Linked DNA regions of Homo sapiens: region 2 is linked to region 1. Evidence: fine-mapped QTL for protein levels in blood plasma. Region 1 holds a variant in brackets. A gene starts in the other region. All regions are shown on their forward strands.

The links. A credible set is the group of variants that fine-mapping cannot tell apart. PIP is the chance, under the fine-mapping model, that this variant and not a neighbour inherited with it causes the effect. Protein levels are from antibody-based Olink assays in UK Biobank. Linkage for the fine-mapping came from a reference panel and not from the study's own genotypes, which makes the PIPs less certain.
Region 2: CTSV starts here. The variant in region 1 is the best candidate, but not a certain one, in a credible set for the plasma level of the CTSV protein (UK Biobank, PIP 0.55).

Annotation. Positions count from the first base shown.
Region 1 is chr16:79,786,040-79,788,959 of GRCh38, forward strand. The region is part of intron 1 of LINC01229 (long intergenic non-protein coding RNA 1229); the gene reads left to right. Among named protein-coding and RNA genes, the nearest start is that of MAFTRR, 17 kb to the left of the region's middle. The variant G/A (reference allele first, on the strand shown) is at 1,236.
Region 2 is chr9:97,037,580-97,040,499 of GRCh38, forward strand. CTSV (cathepsin V) reads right to left here and starts at 1,563. Exons shown (of 8, transcript NM_001333.4): 1 at 1,492-1,563; 2 at 339-474; 3 at 1-36. The coding sequence starts at 464. RefSeq lists a silencer at 1,598-1,907.

The sequences.
Region 1 (2,920 bases):
CTGTTCCGATATGATGGTATCCACAGAAGACAGGTCTGAAAGTAAATAAAAGATGGTAGAATCAATGAAGTCATTTCAAAAGATCAAAAGGAGAAGAAAAAATAGTGCACATGGCAGAAATAGAAATACAGGGGCACTAATAAAGTATTTGGACTCAGTGGGAGCAGATGAGACAGGTCTCTGCTTGGAGAATTAGATTTGAAAAGAGGAATAACGAGAAAGGGAGATGACAAGATAGACTTATATCAGGTGGGTTGTTGTATGGAGACACCAAGAGAAGGATGCTGGTTAGAGGTTGAGTGTTGGGAGAGTGGAAGCTGAATCAAGGGCAGTGAATGAGAGTATGTATTAGTTCCAAGGCTATTAAAATAACAGTTTCCATGCCATTTCCTCCACCACTACCATCACCACTGCCATCACCACCACAATAACAACTATCACCATCATTATCATCGCCACCATTATCATCACCACCGTCACTGCCATAACTACTATTACTACCACCATCACCATCACCACCACCACCACTACTATTAACATCACTAGCATCATTGCCACAATTACTATTGCTACCATCATCACCACCACTATCACCATCACCGTTACTACCACAACCACCATCATGCTCACTATCATCATTGCTACAACTACTATTTCTACTACCATCACCATCACCACCATCACTACCACCATCACCATCATTACTACCACCATCACCACCACCACCAGCACTGTCATGCTCACTGGCACCATTGTCACACCTATTATAACCACCATCCCCACCATCACAGCCACCATCATCACCACCATCATTGCCACAACTATTACAGCCACCATCACCATCACCACCACCACTACCACCATCATCATTACCACCACCATTATCACTACTACCAGCACCATCATCATCACTACCACCACCACCATCAACATCATCATTGCCATGACTACTATTACTACCAAAATCACCATCACCATGACCACTATTGCCATCATCAGTTTTATCACCATCATCACCATTAGCACTACCACCCCCAAATTATTGCTCCTTTGCAGGTAGAGACAACTGTACTTCTTTCTTTCTGATTTGAATGCCTTTTATTTCTTTCTCCTGTGTAACTATTCTGGCTACGACCTCCAGTACTACACTGAATGCCAGTGGTGACTGTGGGCATCTTTGTCTTGTCCTGATCTTAGAGGGGAAAAGCTTCTAGCTTTGCACTGTTGAACATGAT[G/A]CTAGGTGTGGCTTGTCATATATGGCCTTTATTATGTCGACATACATTGTTGTTGCACCTGATTTGGTGAGAGCTTTTGTCAGGAAAGGAGATGATCTTTGAATGGCTGCTATTTTCGTGGACTCTTTGGCTCTCTCTGGATGCAGCTTAAGTCTGCAGTAAGGACTCTGATGAGTGAATTCTATGCAGCTTGACATTCTTGTCTGAATAATAAAAGTTCTGCAAACAGGCGGCTCCAGTAATCTGTTTATTATCATTTCTCTTTCCTAGTTAGAATTTATCGTTTTTCATGTGTGTGAAAAGGAGTCTCTTCATCGTTTCTAGGCTATGCTATACTTCTGTATCCAGAAACTCTGACTTAGAGAGCCTGGGAGATGTGAGAGCATTTGACAGAAATATAAGTTAATGAAAAGAATATTTAATCTAATTTTTTAGATGGGAACACTGAGACCCAAGAACTTGGAATGTCTACACCTAACTGCAAGTGAATTTTTTAAAAGAGTTTATATTACGTGCCTCATGGAGACTTAGAAGACTTACATCTCTTAATGTTTTGAGATTGACCAATCTTAAGTTAGAGTTGTTTCCAAGAAGAGGAAAAAATAAATGATCAACCTCTCTAGCAGATAGATAGTCACAGGTTTCCTATAACACAATTTAAAGGAATCACAATTTGTAAATGCACAGATTACAAAAGGACTATTCATCTTATAAACCAAGATGCTGTAGAACTAATTTCAATTAAAGTTTTGCAAGTGAATTTTAAATCACATCGAATTAAGCAAGAATCAATTTACATGCAACTTCTAGCAAAGAAATTACTATGTAGAGTAAGAGACACCTGTTAACTTCACTACCCGAAACCCATTGCCATGATTTTTACCCACCACATTTTCTTAGGACAAAGTGTTAAAAGATTGGCATCTTTGATTTCAAGCTGTTTCCGGGACCCCTTTGAAGAGTAAAGATGTTTTTATAGCTTCAGTTGTGTGTGTGTGTTTGTGTATGTGTGTTATGTGTTTGGCAATAGGAATACTTCAGGATGAATCTCTAAGCTGATAGAGTTCAGAAGAGCAGGATATTCTGAGAGGGTTTTCTGTCTCTCTGAGTCAATAAAAAATCAGGCTATAGTTCTCTTCTTTCATCATCTAGAAAATAGAGAACATTATTTGTCTTTTAATCCTTTGTAAAGATAAAAAGTGGGTAAAAAGGTAAGGGTTAGGGTCAAGAGACCTGTATTCAAGGTCTGTGCTCTGTCACTTACAGGCTAGTTAATCATGGATGAGTCCCTTAACTTCTCTGAATCTTAGTTTTCTTATCTATGAAATAGGGTTAACTCTTGGTGCCATTAGGATTAAGTGAGAATGTACTAATGTTCAAAGAGTATGTAAAAGTCGAACATAGTGCCTGACATAAAATTGATACTCAATAAACTAACACAAAATAGACACTGAATAAACATGTGTTGAAAAATATGGAGATTTATGTGTTCACACTAATTGGTTTAAGTCTTAAACCCAGGAAAAAATCTGAACTGCAACATGCAATGAGGAGTAAACCTTGTTTGCTAAGTAAATGTTAAGATTTCAAAGAACGCTATCCTCCTGTAAAACCATTTTGCCTTTGAAGAGACCCACATATTTCTCATGTGAGCAAAACGGTTCTTCATTCCTTAAACCCACTAC
Region 2 (2,920 bases), not on the chromosome of region 1:
CTTTTCCCACACTGCTCTCCTCCATCCTTCTTCATTCTAGAGGCAAACATATAGCTGGTGGACTTTATGTCTACTTACCCAACCCATGTTCACCAAGCCGATTTGCGGGCAGAAATGGAAGAGAAACCATGGCCAGGGATGGGTTGATACTTCTCTGGGAGCTGTTCTCCAAGCCAAGACACAATGGAGATATATGCCCATATTGCACCTATAATGGGTGCTGTTAGGTTATTGCCTGGTAAGGTCTGGTGTCTAGAAGCTACTCTCTGGCTATCAACTCCCAACAGCGAGGACCATTCTCTCCAGAGTCCCTCTGGACAGTTTCAGATGTTACCAACCGCGCCATATAATCTTCTGTGTGTTGCCTTCCACTGGTACCACTTTGTATCCAAATTTTGGTCAAATTTTGGAACAGCGGAGGCTATTCCCAAGCAAAAGGCAGCCAGGACGAGCGAAAGATTCATGTTTCAAAACCTAGAAAGAGAAAAGAAATGAGTATCTGATTAGACCAATCCTAAAAAGCCATCTTACAGCCCCCGTGGAATAGAAATATTTCAATTATTCTCCCTAGCATTTCCCCAAGGACTGTGGAAGAGGCTGAAACAGGCCAAGTGGAGGTATTTGATGGGCCCACCAAAATTAAAAGCAGCCTGCAGAGTTGGAGGCGTTGAAACAGCATATGCGATAATTTAGGGTATGAGAAGGGTGTGAAAGATACCTGACGGGTGAGAAGCTTAAGGCAACAACTAGAAAACTAGGAAAGAGTTGGTCCAGGTTTTGCACCAATTGTACTGAGGTCATCCAGGCAAAACCTCACTAATGAAGACGTACCATCCCAAGTAGATGCAAGCGGATCCCCAAGGAACACCACCTCACACCTTCTTGGCTGATACACAGCAGGAGATGAGCTATGTCTTCCAACCTCTCCTTTTGGAATAAAACCTTTCGGGAATCCCTTTCCAGGAGACACTGGGAAGGAGAGCACCCACTATTCCCGCCGTCCCACACTTGGGTCTGTGCTACTCGCTCCCCTAAACCGGGGCAGGGTCACAAGGCCGCGCCGCTGGAAGCCAGGGGCCCCAGGGCCAGGGCCCGGACCGAGGCAGGCAGCTCCCGGAGCTCCGGGCGGGCCAGGACCGGGGCCGCACCGCCTGCTCTCGCCCTCTGCACGCGCCGCCGCGCCCCGAGAATGTTTGCGGCGGTGCAGGGAGCGGGGGCTCCGCGGCCAGGCTGGGGGCATGAAGCCGCCCGGTCCGGTCCGGCTTCAGCCCACAGGATGACTGACCTGCCCCGCCCGGGCCCTCCCAGTGGTGCCGGCGCCTCCCTGGGGTCTCCAACCGCCCTCCCCCGTTCCCCACCTCGAGGCTGGCAGAGCTCCGGGCAGAAGCTCTCACTCCCAGAAGCGCCCGCCTCCTCTCAGTGTCCCTAAAGGGGGGTTCCCTCCTCCAGTCCCCCTTCGCCCTGTCCCTCGGTCTGGTCGGGGGCGCTCACCAGCAGCCGTCGCAGCTGCGCAGGCACCCTCAGCAAACAAGCCTCTGAGATTACAGACGTCCGCGGTCTGGTGCAGGTTCGCCCGCCTCGGGATTTAAGTTTCCAGGCGGCCTTCCCCGCCCCCACCGCCTTCCCGCGCTGCGATTGGCTGTGCCGGCCACTGGGCGGGGCCCCGGGCGCTTAGAGCCCGCGCGTGACGCAGCCCAGTCCCAACCCGTCTCAGGTCTGGGCGCGCCTACCTCAATACACCCTGGCTGCGGGAAGCTGGGCCGGGCGCCCGGGGGCTGCGCGGAGGAGGGGGAGGCGCCTCCCTCAAGGGCTCAGATCTACTGACTATCCCGACTTACTGCGCTGAGCGGGTGGTTTACAGCGAGCTCTGTGTGGTATTTCAGTCCCTACTTTAACTTAGTCCTAGAGTTTTTGGTGAAAATCTGCAGGGCCGGGAGCCAGGGTACTCTCGTTCAGTGGCTCCTGTTTAGTCCACGGCAAAGGTGGGACGGAGTGGAAGAACGCACAGCCCCCAGCAGAAGCATTACCTTCCACTTAAGGGTGGGTGCATCAGGGCTTTAGAAGAATCTGGTAAGGAAAGGCACTCCCAAAACACGGGATGGATGGTCGAGACCGGACACCAGGAGGGACGGGACTAGCTGATAGGGTGTCCAGAGACCGCGGAGCGTTTTGTGGTGCGTCCTTCCCAGTCTGTTGCATTCAGGAATTCTTCCTTCTCCCATGTCTTTCAATACCAAAAAAAAAAAAAAAAAAAAAAAAAAGAGTTACAGAAATATTTGGTTAATAAAAAAGAGAAAAGCGTTGAGAATGGTGAAATAAATTGCTTTAAAAATTTTTCTTTTGTAGAAATGGAGTTTGGCTAAGTTTCCTTAGGCTGCTCTTGAATTCCTGGCCTCAAGCGATCCTCCCCTCTCAGCCTCCCAAAAGTGGTGGGATTACAGGCGTGAGCCACTACGCCCAGTCTGAGAGTGGTGGAAATTGCTTTTACTTACCTACTCTCTGCTTATGGGTTACAACGTCTCTTCCTCAGTATTCAAAGTGTGCTTCTTTTGAGATTTAATAAATTTACTTTAAAAATGTTTAATACCGGCCGGGCGCGGTGGCTTACACCTGTAATCCCAGCACTTTGGGAGGCCGAGGCGGGCGGATCACGAGGTCATGATATCGAGACCATCCTGGCCAACATGGTGAAACCCTGTCTCTACTAAAAATGCAAAAATTAGCTGGGCGTGGTGGCGGGCGCCTGTAGTCCCAGCTACTCAGGAGGCTGAGGCAGGAGAATTGCTTGAACCCGAGAGGCGGAGGTTGCAGTGAGCTGAGATCGTGCCACTGCACTCCAGACTGGTGACAGAGCGAAACTCTGTCTCAAAAAATAAAAATAAAAATAAAAATATATAATATCAGGGTTGAGGTGATGCAG